6 linked regions of the Homo sapiens genome follow. The protein of the gene in region 1 purifies or fractionates together with the protein of each later gene. This does not show direct contact. Each region holds a gene or a part of one and is shown on either strand. Other genes may lie near its edges.

The links.
Region 2: the proteins of FNDC8 (region 1) and ZNF609 purify together in Homo sapiens (affinity purification with mass spectrometry; one large-scale study listed by BioGRID and IntAct). This does not show direct contact.
Region 3: the proteins of FNDC8 (region 1) and SP3 purify together in Homo sapiens (affinity purification with mass spectrometry; one large-scale study listed by BioGRID and IntAct). This does not show direct contact.
Region 4: the proteins of FNDC8 (region 1) and KLHL24 purify together in Homo sapiens (affinity purification with mass spectrometry; one large-scale study listed by BioGRID and IntAct). This does not show direct contact.
Region 5: the proteins of FNDC8 (region 1) and SRR purify together in Homo sapiens (affinity purification with mass spectrometry; one large-scale study listed by BioGRID and IntAct). This does not show direct contact.
Region 6: the proteins of FNDC8 (region 1) and EIF2AK2 purify together in Homo sapiens (affinity purification with mass spectrometry; one large-scale study listed by BioGRID and IntAct). This does not show direct contact.

The regions. Positions count from the first base shown.
Region 1 is NC_000017.11:35,124,615-35,127,923, reverse strand, and holds part of FNDC8 (fibronectin type III domain-containing protein 8), read right to left. Parts: intron 883-3,309; coding exon 507-882; intron 1-506.
Region 2 is NC_000015.10:64,673,578-64,677,077, forward strand, and holds part of ZNF609 (zinc finger protein 609), read left to right. Parts: intron 1-338; coding exon 339-2,679; intron 2,680-3,500. UniProt on the Homo sapiens protein: Transcription factor, which activates RAG1, and possibly RAG2, transcription. Through the regulation of RAG1/2 expression, may regulate thymocyte maturation.
Region 3 is NC_000002.12:173,951,874-173,955,373, forward strand, and holds part of SP3 (transcription factor Sp3), read right to left. Parts: coding exon 3,000-3,500; intron 1-2,999. UniProt on the Homo sapiens protein: Transcriptional factor that can act as an activator or repressor depending on isoform and/or post-translational modifications. Binds to GT and GC boxes promoter elements. Competes with SP1 for the GC-box promoters.
Region 4 is NC_000003.12:183,680,623-183,682,820, reverse strand, and holds part of KLHL24 (kelch-like protein 24), read right to left. Parts: 3' UTR 1-2,198. UniProt on the Homo sapiens protein: Necessary to maintain the balance between intermediate filament stability and degradation, a process that is essential for skin integrity.
Region 5 is NC_000017.11:2,317,450-2,320,949, reverse strand, and holds part of SRR (serine racemase), read right to left. Parts: intron 3,081-3,500; coding exon 2,954-3,080; intron 2,125-2,953; coding exon 2,021-2,124; intron 1-2,020. UniProt on the Homo sapiens protein: Catalyzes the synthesis of D-serine from L-serine. D-serine is a key coagonist with glutamate at NMDA receptors. Has dehydratase activity towards both L-serine and D-serine.
Region 6 is NC_000002.12:37,136,481-37,139,980, forward strand, and holds part of EIF2AK2 (interferon-induced, double-stranded RNA-activated protein kinase), read right to left. Parts: intron 3,278-3,500; coding exon 3,151-3,277; intron 2,106-3,150; coding exon 2,029-2,105; intron 1,884-2,028; coding exon 1,790-1,883; intron 538-1,789; coding exon 503-537; intron 1-502.

The sequences.
Region 1 (3,309 bases):
GGCTTCACCCTAGACCCTCTAGGGAGGAGGCCCAGCAATTCTGAGTAGCCTCACTCGATCCCAGGTCCTCATCCAGGGCTTCTCACGCTTTCATGTTCCTACAGATCACCTACCATCTTGTTCAAATTGAGATTTCCTCCCTCACTTTCCTGTGAGCTTTTGCTAGGGTCCGCCCCTCCAGGGAATGCCTCCCTCCTCCACCTCTAGATGTTTACATGCTACCTCTACATCCCAGCTCAGATGTTACCAAAAGCCACCAAGCTTATTCCCGCATCTGGAAATATCTTTCCCTCTGAATTCCTGGTGGCACTTGCTCTGAACTTTTCCTACAGCACTGAACCCTTTCTGTCTTGCACTGGAGTTTTTACAGACACATCCTCTCCCTTCCTAAACCGTGAACTTGAGGTCGACATGCAGGTGGCAGGCACCTTCTCACTACCCATGGAGCTCAGCTCAGTGCCTGGCACAATAAGCCTCTGCTGAACGCATGAGCAAGGGAAACGCACCACAGCTGTGGAATTGTTGACGGTGTGCTCAAAGATGAAGGGGGTGTCCGGCAGGTCCACAACCACAGAAGATTCTGAGTGCGTTGAGGAGGTTTCTGTCTCCAGCTCAGGGTTGTCAAGGTCCAGCAGGCCCCTTGTGGCCATCTGGGACTTCGATGGGCATGGGCAGGGGCCGAGCGCCAGGTCCTCATTTTCTGCATTCTTGGCCATTGGGGAGAAGCTGAGTTTGTTCAGCTCCCCCTCCAGCATCCCTGCAAAGAAGCTGCTGTTGGGCTGGGTCACAGCTAATTTGATGGGGTTCAGCAAGGTGGATGAGAAGGCAGAGATGCTGGTCTCATCAGAGCTGCAGTCTGAATCCTCTACTGGCAGCGGCTTCCTGGAGCAAAAGGGGAGACAGGTGAATCAGATGAAGGAGGCCACCCCAGCCCGTTCCACCTGAGGGCAGGCCTTGGGCCTGACTTACCAGCATCCCCAGCCATTTGCAAACAGCTTGGAACAGCCTCATTGCTCTATAGCATTGCATTAGACTCACCAGGGCACTTACTAAAAATGCAGACTTTTAGTCCCTGGTCCCCAGTTAGCATGGGACTAGAGAATCCGCATCTTTAATAAGATCCTGGCTGGGCGCAGTGGCTCACGCCTATAATCCCAGCACTTTGGGAGGCCGAGGCAGGCAGATTCAAGGTCAGGAGTTACAGACCAGCCTGGCCAACATGGTGAAACCCTGTCTCCACTAAAAACACAAAAATTGGCTGAGTGCGGTGGTTGGCACCTGTAATCCTAGCTACTTGGTAGGCTGAGGCAGGAGAATTGCTTGAACCCAGGGGGCAGAAGTTGCAGTGAGCCGAGATCACACCACTGCACTCCAGCCTGGGTGACAGAGTGAAACTCTATCTCAAAAAAAAAAAAAAAAAAAAAAAGCTTAGAAAATCCTGATGCAAGTGTTCTGCAAACCACAATTTAAAAAACATGCTAAAATGGCAAGTCCTCCCTCCAAAGTGGGGTGCAAATGCCCCAGGGAATAACCACAAAGATCTACTGGGGTATGGAAGTAATACATTCAATTTCACTAATGTTTATTTACTATTGTTTAAATTTTAATGGAATTACTAATATTTACTTACATTTTAGTGGCATTTAATAATACCTATTAATATCTAGCACGTAAAATTAACAGAAATACAAATACATATATGGGCCAGGCGCGGTGGCTCACACCTGTAATCTCAGCACTTTGGGAGGCCAAGGTGGGTGTATTACCTGACGTCAGGAGTTCAAGACCAGCCTGGCCAACATAGCGAAACCTTGACTCTACTAAAAATACAAAAAATTAGCTGGGCATGGTGGCGGTTGCCTGTAATTCCAGCTACTTGGAAGGCTGAGGTGGGAGGATCGCTTGAGCCTGGTAGGTGGAGGTTGCAGTGAGCCGAGATCCTGCCACTGCACTCCAGCCTGGGCAACAGAGTGAGACCCTGTCTCAAAAATAAAATAAAACAAATATACATATGTTGGTGTGGATGCTCAAAAACTTATTTCTTCCACTCTGAATTTTTTAAAATTATGAAGTATTTTAGACTTATACAAAAATATCAAGAATATTATATTAAACCTCCATTTACTCCTCATCTACCTTTAGAAATAAAATCTTATCACTATGGGTAAAGCCCCCCAGACACTTCTGTCTCCCACCAAAGTCCCCATCCTTCGACCGACAAGTAATGAGTACAGTAAAGTTTAAATTGTGTATTTATTACTCAATGTGTGTCTTTATAGGTTTCTTACATATTTATGTTATCCCTAGGCAAGATCTATTATTTTTCACGTTTGTAGATGTTGTACAAATAAAAGATATTATTCAGCACATACCCATCTGCAACATGCTTTTTTCACTCAACTTTGTGTTGACATTCATCTATCTTGATACATGTAGCTCTGGTTCAGTCGTTTTTACTGTTTTATGATTTTCCATTACATGGATATTTGTTTTTGTTTTTGTTTTTTGAGACAGGGTCTCCCTCTGCTGCCCAGGCTGGAGTGCAGTGGCACAAACTCCCAGGCTCAAGCCATCCGTCCACCTCCACCTCCTGAGTAGCTGGGACTACAGGTGCACATCACCATGTCTAGCTAATTTTTGTGTTTTTCTGTAGATGCAGGGTTTTGCCATGTTGCCCAGGCTGACTTCGAACTCCTGGGCTCAAGTGATCCTCCCAAAGTGCTTGGATTATAGGTATGAGCCACTGTGCCCGGCCTATATGGATATTTGTATTGTTATGAGATGTTTGCTATTACAAAGAAAAACCTTGTACATGATCCCCACCACTTAACATTTCTTTTTTCTGTTTTTACTCTTTTTTCTTTTTTTTTTTTTTTGAGCTGGAGTCTCGCTCTGTCGCCCAGGCTGGAGTGCACTGGTGTGACTTCGACTCACTGCAACCTCCGCCTCCCTGGCTTAAGCGATTCTCGTGCCTCAGCCTCCCGAGTAGCTGGGATTACAGGCCCACACTGCCACATCTGCCCAATTTTTGTATTTTTAGTAGAGATGGGGTTTTACCATGTTGGTTAGGCTGGTCTCGAACTCCTGACCTCAGATGATTTGCCGGCCTCAGCCTCCCAAAGTGCTGGGATTACAGGCGTGAGCCACTGCCCCCAGCCAAACAAAAAACAATATTTTTTTAACTGATGAAGAACACCAAGCCAAAAAGTTTGGCTTTCAAATCTTTTTTTACCTTTACCCAAAGTAAAATACACTTTCCATGGCAACTTAGTACATGCATATATACGCCTATAACTAAGACAAACATTT
Region 2 (3,500 bases), on another chromosome or scaffold:
GACAAGTCATTTAGCATGCCTGGCCTCAATTTCCTGTATGATCTCTAACATCTTTTCTGAAACCATGACTATGGCTGTATATAGGAAATGTTGACTTGACTATCTTACGGAACAGATTCTGCATGGTTTTAGAGGTAAATGTTTGGGAATAATTTGCAGCTAACGTGTATCCCAGGAGTTCACCATTTAGTGCAATTCACAATCAGAATTTCTTTTAACAAATCATATTCATTGAAAATGATAGTCACCATCTGGACAGTTCTGGAGGCTACAGCTAAACTGCTTTGAAGATGTTTTCTCTTCTTAATAATATTCTGTTGTGTTTATCCTTTGCCAAGGTTCTGTGACTCCCCGACCAGTGACCTGGAAATGCGCAATGGCCGGGGTAGAGGCAAACGCATGCGTCCCAACAGTAATACACCTGTCAATGAGACAGCCACAGCCTCTGACAGCAAAGGGACCAGTAACAGCAGCAAAACCCGGGCAGGAGCCAATAGCAAAGGCCGTCGGGGCAGCCAGAATTCTTCAGAGCACCGCCCACCTGCCAGCAGCACTTCTGAGGATGTCAAGGCCAGCCCTTCCTCAGCTAATAAGCGGAAAAACAAACCCCTTTCAGACATGGAGCTGAATTCTAGCTCAGAGGACTCCAAAGGGAGCAAGCGTGTCCGTACTAATTCCATGGGCTCAGCCACTGGCCCCCTTCCTGGGACAAAGGTAGAACCCACTGTTCTGGACAGAAACTGCCCCTCCCCCGTCCTAATTGACTGTCCCCACCCAAACTGCAACAAGAAGTACAAGCACATCAATGGACTTAAGTACCACCAAGCTCATGCCCATACAGATGATGACAGCAAGCCGGAAGCGGATGGGGACAGTGAGTACGGAGAGGAACCTATTCTCCATGCAGATCTTGGGAGCTGCAACGGTGCATCTGTCTCACAAAAAGGTTCCTTGTCCCCTGCCCGCTCAGCTACCCCCAAAGTTCGACTTGTAGAGCCCCATAGCCCTTCTCCTTCAAGCAAATTCAGCACAAAAGGCCTCTGTAAGAAAAAGTTGAGTGGGGAAGGGGACACAGACCTTGGGGCCTTATCCAATGATGGCTCTGATGATGGACCCTCAGTGATGGATGAAACAAGCAATGATGCCTTTGATTCTTTAGAAAGGAAGTGTATGGAAAAAGAAAAATGTAAAAAACCCTCTAGTTTAAAACCTGAAAAGATTCCTTCCAAGAGCCTAAAGTCAGCCCGTCCCATTGCCCCTGCCATCCCCCCACAGCAAATCTACACCTTCCAGACAGCCACCTTCACAGCAGCGAGCCCAGGCTCTTCCTCAGGCTTGACCGCCACAGTGGCACAAGCCATGCCCAACAGTCCCCAACTCAAGCCCATTCAGCCCAAGCCCACTGTTATGGGAGAACCTTTCACAGTCAACCCTGCCTTGACTCCAGCCAAGGACAAGAAAAAGAAAGACAAAAAAAAGAAGGAATCTTCAAAGGAACTTGAAAGTCCTCTGACCCCTGGGAAGGTGTGTCGAGCAGAGGAAGGCAAAAGCCCATTCAGGGAATCTTCAGGAGATGGGATGAAAATGGAGGGGCTCCTAAATGGCTCATCAGACCCCCACCAAAGCCGACTGGCTAGCATCAAGGCTGAAGCCGACAAGATCTACAGTTTCACGGACAATGCCCCCAGCCCTTCCATTGGAGGCAGTAGCCGCCTTGAAAACACTACCCCTACTCAGCCCCTGACTCCCTTACATGTGGTGACCCAGAATGGAGCTGAAGCCAGCTCAGTCAAAACCAACAGCCCTGCATACTCTGACATCTCTGATGCTGGGGAGGATGGGGAGGGCAAGGTAGACAGTGTCAAATCAAAGGACGCCGAACAGTTGGTTAAAGAAGGGGCTAAGAAAACTCTTTTTCCCCCTCAGCCTCAGAGCAAAGACTCACCATATTACCAAGGCTTTGAGAGTTACTATTCTCCAAGTTATGCACAGTCCAGCCCTGGGGCTCTGAACCCCAGCAGCCAGGCAGGAGTGGAGAGCCAGGCCCTGAAGACAAAAAGGGATGAGGAACCTGAGAGCATAGAAGGGAAAGTGAAGAACGATATCTGTGAAGAAAAGAAGCCCGAGCTGAGCAGTTCCAGTCAGCAGCCCTCGGTCATCCAGCAGCGTCCCAATATGTACATGCAGTCCCTGTACTACAACCAGTATGCCTATGTACCCCCCTATGGCTACAGCGACCAGAGTTACCACACCCACCTTCTGAGCACTAACACGGCTTACCGGCAGCAGTACGAAGAACAGCAGAAACGCCAGAGCTTAGAGCAGCAGCAGCGGGGAGTGGACAAGAAGGCAGAGATGGGCCTGAAGGAGCGGGAGGCAGCACTCAAGGAAGAGTGGAAGCAAAAGCCGTCAATTCCACCAACTCTCACCAAGGCCCCCAGCCTGACAGACCTGGTGAAATCAGGACCTGGCAAGGCCAAGGAGCCAGGGGCTGACCCAGCCAAATCAGTCATCATTCCCAAGTTAGATGACTCTTCAAAACTCCCGGGCCAGGCCCCTGAAGGCCTTAAAGTGAAGCTGAGTGATGCCAGCCACCTAAGCAAGGAGGCCTCTGAGGCCAAGACAGGTGCTGAGTGTGGTCGACAGGCAGAGATGGATCCAATACTCTGGTACCGACAGGTAACTGTTGCCCTGGGAGGAAGTGGAAATACCGTATGGTAATCGTCTATCTTCCTCACAAATAAGGGCTGTCCTTATACAGGGGTTCAACGGAATTGAGATTAGCAGGAGAGATGTATAATTTTAAGGATTCTTTACCTTTGTAAACTATTTTAATGTTTTTTATTTTATTTTAGTATTATTATTTTTTTTGAGATGGAGTCTCACTCTGTTGCCCAGGCTAGAGTGCAGTGGTGCAATCTTGGCTCACTACAACCTCCGCCTCCCAGGTTCAAGCAATTCTCCTGCCTCAGCCTCCCGAGTAGCTGAGATTACAGGCACACGCCACCATGCCCAGCTAATTTTTTTTGTATTTTTAGTAGAGATGGGGCTTCACCATCTTGGTCAGGCTGGTCTGGAACTCCTGACCTCAAGTAATCCACCTGCCTCAGCCTCCCAGAGTGCTGGGATTACAGGCATGAGCCACTGCACCCAGCCAATTTTTATTTTATTTTATTTATTTATTTATTTATTTTGAGATGGAGTCTGGCACTGTCACCCAGGCTGGAATGCACTGGCGCAATCTCAGCTCACTGCAACCTCTGCCTCCCAGGTTCACACGATTCTCCTGCCTCAGCCTCCCGAGTAGCTGGGATTACAGGTGCACGCCACCACACCTGGCTAATTTTTTGTATTTTTAGTAGAGACGGGGTTTCACCATGTTAGCCAGGATGGTCTTGATCTCCTGACCTTGTGATCCACCCACCTCGGCCTCCCAAAGTACCTGGATTAAGGCGTGAGCCACTGCGCCCAGTCGTAATTTTTTTTATTTTTATGTTTTT
Region 3 (3,500 bases), on another chromosome or scaffold:
ACTATCATACAGATCTTCCAAGTGTTAGCACATTACATTAAAATACAGTATCAAAAAAGCTTTGTTAGTATCACTATCCATCTCATCAGAAAAATATTAAGAAGGTATCAAGCTCATAATAGATTTGAGTTTTCTAAAATTCTAATTTTCACTGGAAAGCACAAATTTTGTCATCTGCAGCAGCAAATGCTTTCCAGTTTTTTTCCTTCACATGACAGGCTCACTTCATTTTTTTTTTTTTTTTGAGGAAATATCTGTCACTTAAGTACATTAATCTCAAGACCACAGTTTATCATTCTTTCAAGTAAAAACAGTATTTGATGAAAATAGCATCTAGTTCAGCTTGCAACTCACAGAACTGCATAACTGAGGGAAAAAAGTGGTTTTTTAAAGACAATTCTTATTTTGATATGCAGCAAAAATGCTTTATTAAGGCATACTTCCCATTTCATCATAAATACTACTACAAAGATATGCAGTAGGAACTACAAACCAAAACCATAAAAAGATACCACTTCACACCCACTAGGATGGCTGTAATCAGAAAGATGGGCAATAATAAGGTTGGTGGCGCTAGAGAGAAATTGGGACTCTCAACACATTGCTGATGAGAATGTAAAACGGTATGGTCTCTTTGGAAAACCGGTTAAACCCAATTGCCATATAACCCAGCAATCCAGTCCCAGGTACATACCCAAAAGAAAACATTTCCACACAAAATACTACCTACACAAATGTTCACAGCAGCAATATTCATAATAGCCAAAAAGTGTAAACAACCTAAATGTCCACCAGTAGATAAATAAAATGTGGTATATCCATACAGTGGAACAGTATTCAGCCATATATAAAGAAATGAGGTAATGACACATACCATGACACAGATGAACCTTGAAAACATCATGCTAAATGAAAGAAACCAAACACCAAAGGCCACATATTGTACAATTACACTGATACGAAATAACTGGCAAATCTGAAGGGACAGAAAGTAGCATAGTGGTTGTCAGGGTCTGAGGGGAAGTGAATGATGAGTGACTGCTAAAGGGTATGGGTTTCCTTTTGAGGTAATAAAAATGCTCTGAAATTAGATAGTGATGATGGTTGTACAACTCTATGACCATAGTTACAACCAGTGAATTGTATAAAGAGTGAGTTTTACGGTATGTGAGTTATATCCCAATAAAGCTATTATTTTTTAAAAGACATGCAGCCCTCAAGGGTCAAGATTTAGTAAATATCTTTTCTTACTGGTTCATCGAGGTCATTCTTGAGTGAAACTGGGATTTTTCTTTAACTGCAAGTGCATGGTCATGAAGAATACAGCAACAACTATTACAGTTTGCTGTCACTGCCTTGATTTATGCTAAGACACAAGCAGTTTTATCCACCACCACTGAAAGTGTCAACACAGAGAACAAGGCAAACAATTTCTTAGTGCAGCTTGATGTGAAGGACCTCTGAGAGGGTCTCAGGGATATCCAATGGTCCACAGATCACATTTTAAGAACTACTGTTCTAGGCCAGGAGCAGAGCGGTGGCTCACGCCTGTAATCCCAGCACTTTGGGAGACCCACACCTGTAATCCCAGAACTTTGGGAGGCCCACACCTGTAATCCCAGCACTTTGGGAGGCCAAGACAGGCAGATCACTTGAGGTCAGGAGTTTGTGACCAGCCTGGCCAACATCTTTACTAAACCTCATCTTTACTAAAAATACAAAAATTAGCCGGATGTGGTGGTGTGCACCTGTAATCCCAGTTATTCAGGAGCTAATCCCAGTTACTCGAGAGGCTGAGGCACGAGAATTGCTTGAACCCAGAAGGCAGAGGTTGCAGTGAACCAAGATCACACCACTGCACTCCAGCCTGTGTGACAGAGCGAGACTCCATCTCAAAAAACAAAACAAAACAAAAAAAAAAACAACTACTGCTCTAAACCAGTTTCAGAAATCCTAATCCCAACCCCTAAAAAAAAATAATCACAGCTTCAGAAGGCTTAAATGCAATTAAAGGATTTCCAAATACGGATCTGAGGTTCTAAGACCATTTCAATTTTCTAAGCATGTATCACAAATTTATCAAAAGAAAAAAGGTAATCTTTAAATGGTGATGGGAGTTATGTCAATCAGTTCAGTTAAAGTGTCCCAATTTAAGAGTTTAGAATCACTGACCTGGTGAAAGAATGTTAGTAGTACAATCTCCACAGAAATCCAAATACAAAACAGAATTAAAGTAATAAAGTTCAGGATTTACTGCACAACAAAACATTCAATCAAATGTTATCTAGACAGACAACATTAATAGGGTAAAAATGACACTATCTCTTTTTAAACTTTATTATTTAATTCTTACACAACATTCAAAGAGCAGACTTCAGAAATGTCTACCCATACTATTGACAACTATTTCTAGCACAGCTAAGTTTAATGCCCACTATCACAGAATCAAAGAATTTTTGGTCTGGAAGGTCACCTAGACAGTTACCTAGTCCAACACCTCCATTTTACACAACAAGGAAACTGAGTTTGCGAAAGAAAAATAACTTGGTCAAAATCACACACCTAGCAAGTGGCTGAGGCATATTTACTCCCTGTACCATGTTTTCACTATACCAACCTGACTCCTCAACCAAATATAATGCATAAAAATTTTAATTCACATCACACTAAGGCCAACCAAGACACCCTACCTGCCAAATAAAAATTTTATAATGCCTGACAATATCAATCAGATGTCAAAACAAATATAAAATTAAGAAAAAACTATAAATGTTAATTGGCATAATAGAAACATGAATCCCTAACTTCAAAAACTACAAACTTTCAAAGAATAATTTGGAAGATACTTTGATGTCTACTTTCATACAAACATATTTTCATACAAACATTGATCATTAATTCTAATGTGAGTCTGATGCTGATAAATACCTAAAGCAAAAAATTTCCCTCTATGTATTATCACTGAACTTATTTATGGCATGACATAACTTAAGACTCACCTGCAGGACTGTCAGCATTCTCTCCTGGATGTAGCTGTATACCAGCAGAATCTATAGAGTTCACTGTAACTGTTTGTAGATTTGGCAACTGACCAGTGCTTAGACTAACTGGAGTTGAAGTGAAGGCTCCACCTGCCGCAACTTGACCAAGTGTGAGGGTTTGAACAGGCGTCAAAGTTATTTGTTGGGCAGCAGTATTCTGTATTTGCAAATTCTGCAAGTTCTGGACCCCTTGTACTTGAAACGTTTGCCAAGTTACCTGTCCAGAAGGGGTCACTGTCTGTGCCTGAATTAAAAAGGTTCCAGGATTCAGCTGCAACTGAAGATTTTGCAAAGCCTGTTGTGATATATTTTGACCACTGGCTTGCACACCATGGATTGTCTGTGGTGTAATACCTTGCACAATTTGGGCTTGACTGGTTGGCTGCTGAGACTCTTGAAGTTGTAGATGCTGTACAACAGGCTGTGCTGTAGAAACCTGAATATTCTGTGCCTGTGTCT
Region 4 (2,198 bases), on another chromosome or scaffold:
AAAATCTATTGCCATATCCAGACAACAGGAGAAAAAAAAAATACCTGGTTTGCTTATTGACAAAAGTGGTGTAATTGAACCTTTGTCTTTCCTGAGTTTCAAAAAGGCTATTTGACAGTAGAGATACATAAACAATTCATATTCAGTAAGATAAAATGTATCAGTCCACAAAACATTTTCATCTTTTTAAGTATAAAAGAATCAATGTTCAACCACCACCATGTGTGAAGCCCCTTTTTCCAAATTAAACTTACTCTAGAATCATGAATTGAAGATTATTCAGTCATGGCACTTTACACCCCAAACGAGCAAAAGTAACAAGTTAATACCCTCCCTGAGTATTTACATCATCTTATCACCTGGTTTAAATGGAGTAAATACCTATATTTCAATCATCTAGGAAATAAAAAGGTTACTGAAGATCCAATACACTAGTATTTCATACCTGTGCAGTAAAGTCAGTGGGAAGATTACAGTAGAAAAGGAGGAAGTTCTACTGTTGTAAAAATTAGACCACTTTTGTAGCTGACTCACATAGAGGAAAAACAGAAAATGATTAAAGTTCATGAAAAAAAAACTATACTTTTCTGTTCTACAAAGCATACCTTTGAATTCCCTTTCCAACTGAGGTATCACAGCTGGGTTTAGCAAACTCATCTCTTCTGACCTTGTAAAACTAAATTGTCATAAAGATTCTGATTATACATAAGTCATCGTTACTAATACTCATCATGTACTTTCAAATGTAAAAAGTTCTAGAAATGCCCAAATAAAAAAAAATTCCAGAATTGAATTTAGCATGGTCAACTAATTTTTACTTTATGTGCTTTTTTGCTGATCATCACAGACTGCTAAAATTCATGGTGTTTGGTATATATGTGTGTATACAACCATACTATCTACATACATACACATGTACATATATAGATTCTAAACCAAAGGTTCATATGAGCATCACCTATCAAAAGAAAAATCTTTATGTGATGAGAGAATGAATACAATCTGACACCAATTTGGTTGATATACCCCTTTTGATATATTAATTCTACTCTAAAATTCTTTTTTATTTTATCAAGTCTAATGCTATTATTTATCAAGAATTAGTAAAGGAAGATAAATATTAAAAAATTAAAATATTAAGTTGGGTAACTTTAAAAATAGTTATTTAAATTTTCTAAGATTCAACCTAAGTTCTTGGTGGCCTTCAATATAAATTTTAAGTACTTAATTTATGTAGTTTTAAATTATGTAGAGAAAAAATTAATATTGGTGTGAGGTCTGTGTTTAAAAAAATTCTGTTTTTCAGGATTTCATTTCAAATTTACTATAATAAACACATGGATATTAAAATAAATGTATAACAAAATAAAAGTAAATAGTTAATACTTTTTACAACAGAAAAATACTAGAATATAAAGTTGTCTTGAGAAAGTCTTTTTTTATGTGAAGTCCTATATTCATGAAATGGACATGATCTTACAAATACACATGAAAATAACAACTATCATTTGTAGAATCCTCAGCATTTACAAAATACTTTTTCACACATTATCTCATTTACTGTAAAGAATTTCTTAACTAAATAATTCTATTATCTATAAGAGTATAATGCAGATGTTTACTCTAAAATTAAAGTACAAGTATCCAAACTGTACCTACATTCTTTCAACTAAGAGGATAGAAAATTGTTTTCTGAATTGTTGTTATCACAAAATGGTATCTATCATTTTAAAATTATGATTTGAAAAATAAAAATTCCCTAAAAATTTTTAAGTTTTTTAGAGTTTTCCTCAGAATGTAGATTCTAGCTAAGCATTAAAGTTTAAAAAATGTCTATCTGAAATCTCTGAATCATTCTAAAATGAGAAAACAATGTAGCTTACCAATGTTAGGCTTTTTATTTCAACCTTGGTTTTAACAGAAATCTGGTGACACTTTAATTACATATTTGCATCATCCCTTCTATCACAAGAAATATACAAATTATAATGTGAAAGACAACAGTGACTGGAAGTCAAACTACAGCAGGCTACCTAGAACATCCCTAAATGTTGTAAATTATATCCGTCCACCCAGAATCACAATAATCACTTATGCTGTAGTTCCTGCCATATCCATTTATTTGCATTAGAAAAAAAATTCACATTCCTCTCTGAAAACTGATAAGCTTTATAAAGTGGAGTTGAGAAATCTAGACA
Region 5 (3,500 bases), about 33 Mb from region 1:
GGAGTGCTTGGCCTTTCTGAGGAACAGCTAAAAAGGTTAGTATGGCTGGCACAGAGTGGGCAAGAGAAATAATAGAAGATGAGGTCAAGGCTGGGTGCAGTGGCTGACACCTATAATCCCAGCACTCTGGGAGGCCAAGGTGGGCAGATCACTTCAGGTCAGGAGTTCAAGACCAGCCTTGCCAACACGGCAAAACCCCGTCTCTACTAAAAATACAAAAATTAGCCAGATGTGGTGGCACGCGCCTGTAATCCCAGCTACTCTGGTGGCTGAGGCATGAGAATCTCTTGAACCCAGGAAGCGGAGGCTGCAGGGAGCTGAGAAGAAACTACCGCACTCCAGCCTGGGTTGGACAGAGTGAGACCCTGTCTCAAAATAAATAAAAAGAAGATGAGGGACCAGGCACGGTGGCTCACACTTGTAATCCCAGCACTTTGGGAGGCCAAGGCGGGCAGATCACGAGGTCAGGAGTTCGAGACCAGCCTGGCCAATATGGTGAAACCCTGTCTGTACTAAAGAATCAAAAATTAGCTGGGCATGGTGGCACGCGCCTGTAGTCCCAGCTACTCGGGAGGCTGAGGCAGAAGAATCGCTTGAACCCAGGAGGCGGAGGTTGCAGTGAGCCGAGATTGTGCCGCTGCACTCCAGCCTGGGAGACGGGGAGATTCTGTCTAAAAAAAAAAAAAAAAAAAAAAAAAGATGAGAGATGAGGTCAGAAAGATAGGAATGTTTGAGTTTATCCAGGGATTAGATGATTGCAAGAACTCTCGTTTCCACCGTGTATGAGATGGGAAACCAACAGAGGATTTAGACTTGAAAAGAGACAAGTTCTGGCCAGGCGTGGTGGCTCACGCCTGTAATCCCAGCACTTTGGGAGGCCGAGGTGGGTGGATCACGAGGTCAGGAGATCGAGACCATCCTGGCTAACACAGTGAAACCCCGTCTCTACTAAAAATAGAAAAAATTAGCTGGGCATGGTGGCAGGCGCCTGTAGTCCCAGCTACTCGGGAGGCTGAGGCAAGAGAATCGCTGGAACCCAGGAGGCGGGGCTTGCAGTGAGCCAAGATGGCACCACTGCACTCCAGCTTGGGCGACAGAGCAAGACTCCGCCTCAAAAAAAAAAAAAAAGAAGAGACAAGTTCTGACTTTATTAAATGGAGACCTCTGGTTGCTCAAAAAAGCCTGTAGTGTGGCAAGGGTGGATGCAGAGAGACCAGTTTGGCTACTGAATTGAATATAGGTGAGAATTGATGTTGGTTTGAATCAGAGTGCTAACGGTAGACACAGAAGCAGTTGGGTTATGGAAATATGTTGAAAGCAGACTGAGATTTGGATGTGGGGTATGAGAGGGTTATCAGAGAGGATTCCTGGCTGTGTGCAGTGGGTCATGCCTGTGATCCCAGCATTTTGGGAGGCCAAGGTGGGAGGACTGCTTGAATCCAGGAGTTTGAGACCAGCCTGGGCAACAGTGAGACCCTGTCTACAAAAAATAAAGGAATTAGGTGTGGTGGCATGCACCTGTAGTCCTAGCTACTCAACAGGCTGAGGCAGAAGGATCCCACAACATAGAAAGAGTCCATCTTTAACAACAACAACAAAAAATTTTCAAAAAAAGATGACTCCAACTTTTTTTTGAGTAACTAGAAGAATAAAAATTGCCATTTACTAAGATGAGGAAGACTGGAAGGGAAGCAATATAGGGAAGTAAGATCAGGAGTTTGGTTTTAGCTGTAGTTTGAGATGCCTTTTAAGACATCAAGTGGGAAAGTTAGGTAGCTGTTATATAAAAGTTGGCTGTTAAAGGGAGAGAAGTTGGAGTTGGTGTTGTTAGACCATAGGTAATAATTTAAGAAATGAGACTAATGAGATCTTGTGAGTGTAGATAGAGAAAAGGTTGAGCATGCTAACAGAAATAAAGGGGAAACCACAAAGGAGGCTGAGAAGGAGCAGCCAGTAAGGTAGAAAGAGCCATTGGTCAAATGAAAGCTGTTAAGGTGGTACCAAGCACTGCTCTCCTTACCTCATCACTAGGTTCACAGTATACAATTGACGCTCCGTAGGCTTGTATTGCAAGTTTTTTACAGTCTGGAGCTGTCTGGGGCACCACAATATAAGCAGGAATTCCTGGGAGAGGAAAACGAGAGGAAAAAGTCAGGAGAATTTAGAATAGAAACTTATGTGGCCAGGCACGGTGGGTCACACCTGTAATCCCAGCACTTTGGGAGGCTGAGGCAGGCGGATCACAAGGTCAGGAAATTGAGACCATCCTGGCTAACACGGTGAAACCCTGTCTTTACTAAAAATACAAAAAAAAAAAAAAAAAAAAAAAATAGCCAGGCATGGTGGCAGGCTCCTGTAGTCCCAGGCTGAGGCAGGACAATGGTGTGAACCCGGGAGGTGGAGCTTGCAGTGAGCCGAGATCCTGCCACTGCATTCCAGCCTGGGCGACAGTGCAAGACTCCGTCTCAAAAAAAAAAAAAAAAAAGAAAGAAACATGTTCAGCCAGGTGTGGTGGCTCACGCCTGTAATCCTAGGACTTTGGGAGGCCAAGGCGGGTGGATTGCTTGAGCCCAGGAGTTCGAGACCAGCCTGGGCAACATGGTGAAATTAGTATTTTGTATTTGTAAAATAGAAAAAATTAGCCAGGCGTGGTGGTGCGCACCTGTAGTCCCAGCTACTCAGGAGGCTGAGGCAGGAGAATCGCTTGAACCCGGCAGGTGGAGGTTACAGTGAGCCGAGATCGCGTCACCGCTCTCCAGCCTGGGTGACAGCAAGATTCTGTCTTCAAAAAAACAAAACAAACAAAAAAAAAACTTATGTTCATATTGCTTGCAATCAGATAGAGATTTCTTTGGAAAGTTACTTCCCACAGCTATCATCACTCTCACTGAAATTAAGGGCACTTTTCCACTCCTTTCTGAAGATCTACCCAGTACCTTGAGAAATCAAGTACCTTCCAATTTGGCAGCATAGGTGAGAGCCTGGCCATGGTTTCCACTGCTGTGAGTAACAACAGCTTTCGGCTTCCTTTCTAAAGCATCAGGAACCAAGCTTCTGACGGCATTGAGAGCACCACGAATCTGAAAAAGAGGGATGGTGAATTCACATATTTGATTAAAACATTGTTTTGGAAAGCAAGGAGCTTTTCTAGATTTTCTATCCTTAACATGCACATCCAATCTGTCACCAAATCTTATCGATTTACCTCTTAAATATCTCATGTGCATCTTTATTTTTTATTTTTTTGAGATGGAGTCTCCGTTATCCCGGCTGGAGTGCAGTGCCACGATCTCGGCTTACTGCAACGTCCGCCTCCCCACACTGCGTCTACCCCCAGGGCCGGGTTCAAGTGATTTTCCTGCCTCAGCCTCCCAAGTAGCTGGGATTATAGGCACCTGCCACCATGCCCGGCTAAATTTTTTTTTTTTATTTTTTTAGACCTAGTCTCGCTCTGTTGTAGCCCGGGCTGCAGTGCAGTGGCGCGATCTCGGCTCACTGCA
Region 6 (3,500 bases), on another chromosome or scaffold:
ACCATGTTTCTTCAATACATCTATCTACTGCTCAGAATATACTGGTGGCTCATAATGGCTCCTACTGCCATCTTACTGTCATTTCTGACTATATTTACATCTTTGCCTTTCTCTTCAGTTAATTGACATAGCATTTGACCTTTTTTTAATCCAAGTTTTTATGCTATTTTAACCTTACTTGTCTGCAAAATAATACACTTCTCTTGAAAACACTTCTACAGTGAAAACAGCCCAATTCCTTGCCAGTCTTGTACAAAATAATGCCCTTAACCTAATTACTCTAGCGATACCCCCAAAGTGCTTTATGTTTACAGTGTAGCATGTGCACATAGTCAAAGATTTCTCGACACATCTAAAATTATTTGTTTATAGATTTCAAGCTTTCTGCTTCTGAAACTCTGCTCAAATAAGGGTGTACAATACTCTACAAGTATTAAGAACAATAAATAAGTCTGAAATAAAACTTCAGATCAAAATATGTTCAATGCATAATGATACTCACCTTTTTGCCTTCCTTTGATTATTTCTGAGACCATTCTATAACAAAAGAAAATGAGAAATAGTTTCAGATGACTAAATCAGTCATCTTCCTTTCCCGTTTTCCTTCCTCCTGTATATCTAGATGGCTCTCTGACCAATTTCTTAGTCCATCAATGTCTGTACTCTCATCAAGCCCTGTATCAACACTTAGTATTGTAAGACTTAACTTTTTGCCAATCTAATGAGTTTAAAATAGTATCTAATTGTTTTGATTTAAATTTTCCTGATTCCTAGTAAAGCAGCTTTTAATATTTGTTGCCCATTTGGGTATCTCTTCTCTGAATATCTGTTTATACATTTTGTACACTTTTCTACTGAGCTGCTTGCCATTTTCTTATTGATTTGTAGTTCTTTATAACAGAATACTCTTGTAACACTAATCACCAAAAGCATGGATTTTGCTCTAAGTTCAACATTGCCTGCTTATGTGCACAAAAAAATTGTCTGGTTTTTGTTTGTTTGTTTGTTTTTGCGATGAGGGTCTCACTATGTTGCCTAGGCTGGTCTCAAACTCCTGGGCTAAAGCGATCCTCCTACCTTGGCCTCTCAAGTGCTGCAGGCTACAGGCATGTGCCACTGCACCAGCCTAAAAAATTATCTGATTTCAAGTTTACTTTTAAGTTTAATTCTAATTTTTAAAAACAGAAACGAACTATATTAGTGAATCTTTAAATATTATCCCATTGGTAGGAGAGAAAAGCAAAATCATAGGAATATACTAAAATATAAGGATGAGTGAGGAAAGACAGAAGTGACGTGTGGAAGGGTAAGGAATGGAACTTAATTTTAAAAAAAGTCAAAAAGCTGCCGAGCCGGGCGCGGTGGCTCATGCCTGTAATCCCAGCACTTGGGGAGGCCGAGGTGGGCAGAACACGAGGTCAGGAGTTCGAGACCAGCCTGAACAACATGGTGAAACCCCGTCTCTACTAAAAGTACAAAAATTAGCCAGGTGTGGTACACGCGCATGTAATCCCAGCTACTCAGGAGGCTGAGGCAGGAGAATCGCTTGAACCAGGAGGTGGAGGTGGTAATTAGCCAAGATCTCACCACTGCACTCCAGCCTGGGCAACAGAGGGAGACTCCATCTCAAAAAAAAAAAAAAAAAAAGTCTACTGAGGTATTATCATTTAGTAAGAGTGCATAAGATAAAAAATATAAAAATTATGGTGGAATACTGGAAGTTATTTTTAAATGAGGAAACGCACAGAAAAATAAGATTAAGTAGGAAGCTTCGAGACTAATACGATACCATAAGCAACGAAGAACTGTTTAAACTGTCACTGTTAGAATTTATCTCTGATGTATCTGCTGAGAAGTCACCTTCAGATGATGATTCAGAAGCGCTAGAAGAAAAGGGTGTAACTATTAGTTTATTAATTCTGTTTTTATCACTTATTTCTTTCCCTAAATTCTCCTTAAACATAAAAATCTGTCTTTCAGACAGAAATATGAATATGTTAAGTATCTCAATTGTTTGTCTACACTTACAGTGTGCTGGTCACTAAAGAGTTGCTTTGGGACTCACACGTAGTAGCAAAAGAACCAGAGGACAGGTAGTCAGATTTCTGAAAGAAAAAGTATCCCTTAGTAGGCTTAAATACAACTAATTATTTCTCTACAGAGGCTCAGTTTCTATGTACTATCACATTTATTTCAACACATTTACCAAATCCACAACCATAAACAATTACAAGATTAATAACATTTTTTGGATGTTTGGTCTGGATTTTATTTTATTTTTTATTTTACTTTTCTGGATCACAGGGCAGATATTTTGTTTGTTTCTTTCTTTTCAGACAGGATCTGGCTCTGTTGTCTAGGTTGAAGTGCAGTGGCACAATCTTGGCTCACTGCAACCTCCATCTCCCAGGCTCAGGCAATCCTCCCGCCTCAGCCTCCTGAGTAGCTAGGACTACAGGTACATGCCACCACACCCGTCTAATTTTTTTTTTTTTTTGTAGCGACATGGTTTTGCTGTGTTGCCCCGGCCAGGTGGTCTGAAACTCCTGAGTTCGGCCAGGTGCAGTGGCTCAAGCCTGTAAACCCCAGCACTTTAGGAGGCTGAGGTGGGTGGATCATGAGGTCAGGAGTTCAAGACCAGCCTGGCCAACATAGTGAAACCCCATCTCTACTAAAAATAAAAAATTAGCCGGGCACGGTAGCAGGCGCTTGTAGTCCCAGCTACTCAGTAGGCTGAGGCAGGAGAATTGCTTGAACATGGGAGGCGGAGGTTGCAGTGAGCCGAGATCGTGCCACTGCACTCTAGCCTGGGCAACAGAGCGAGATTCCATCTCAAAAAAAAAAAAAAAAAAACTCCTGAACTCAGGAGATCCACCTGCCTTGGCCTCCCAAAGTGCTGGGATTACAGGTGTGAGCCACCACACCCAGCCCAGCCTGGAGTTTAAAAACTACCCTGAGTTGCCACCAGAAATTTTATCCCTCTGAGGCCTCATGGCCCCATGGTGCATGGCTCATCGGTACGACACAGAATGGAGGAATCATTTTGCTAAATCACTGGCTGTCTTGGCATAATGTTAACACAGTCTAACCTCAAGTCAACTTCAGAGGGAATTTTAAAACATAAAAATTTAATCCAAAGGCAATACGTACCACTGAGGTTTCTTCTGATAATATCTGAAGATATGCAAGTTTAGCGGCCAATTGTTTTGCTTCCTGTTTAGTAGAACCTGTACCAATACTATATTCTTTCTGTCCCATTTTGCATTTATAATGAAATCTAGGAGAAATCATAGAAGGTACTTATCCAAACATGAAAAATATAGCAAATCCAACTTAGGATTCAAAAAAAATAACATATTAACAGAGATCTTAAGATAACACCAATTTATTAGATAGATTTATAGTTCATATCTTGCATAATTTAAACCCTCAGTAACATGCCTGACCAATTTCTCTGAATACCCAGGATCAGCTGACATCTGAGCTTGCATTTTCCAGGC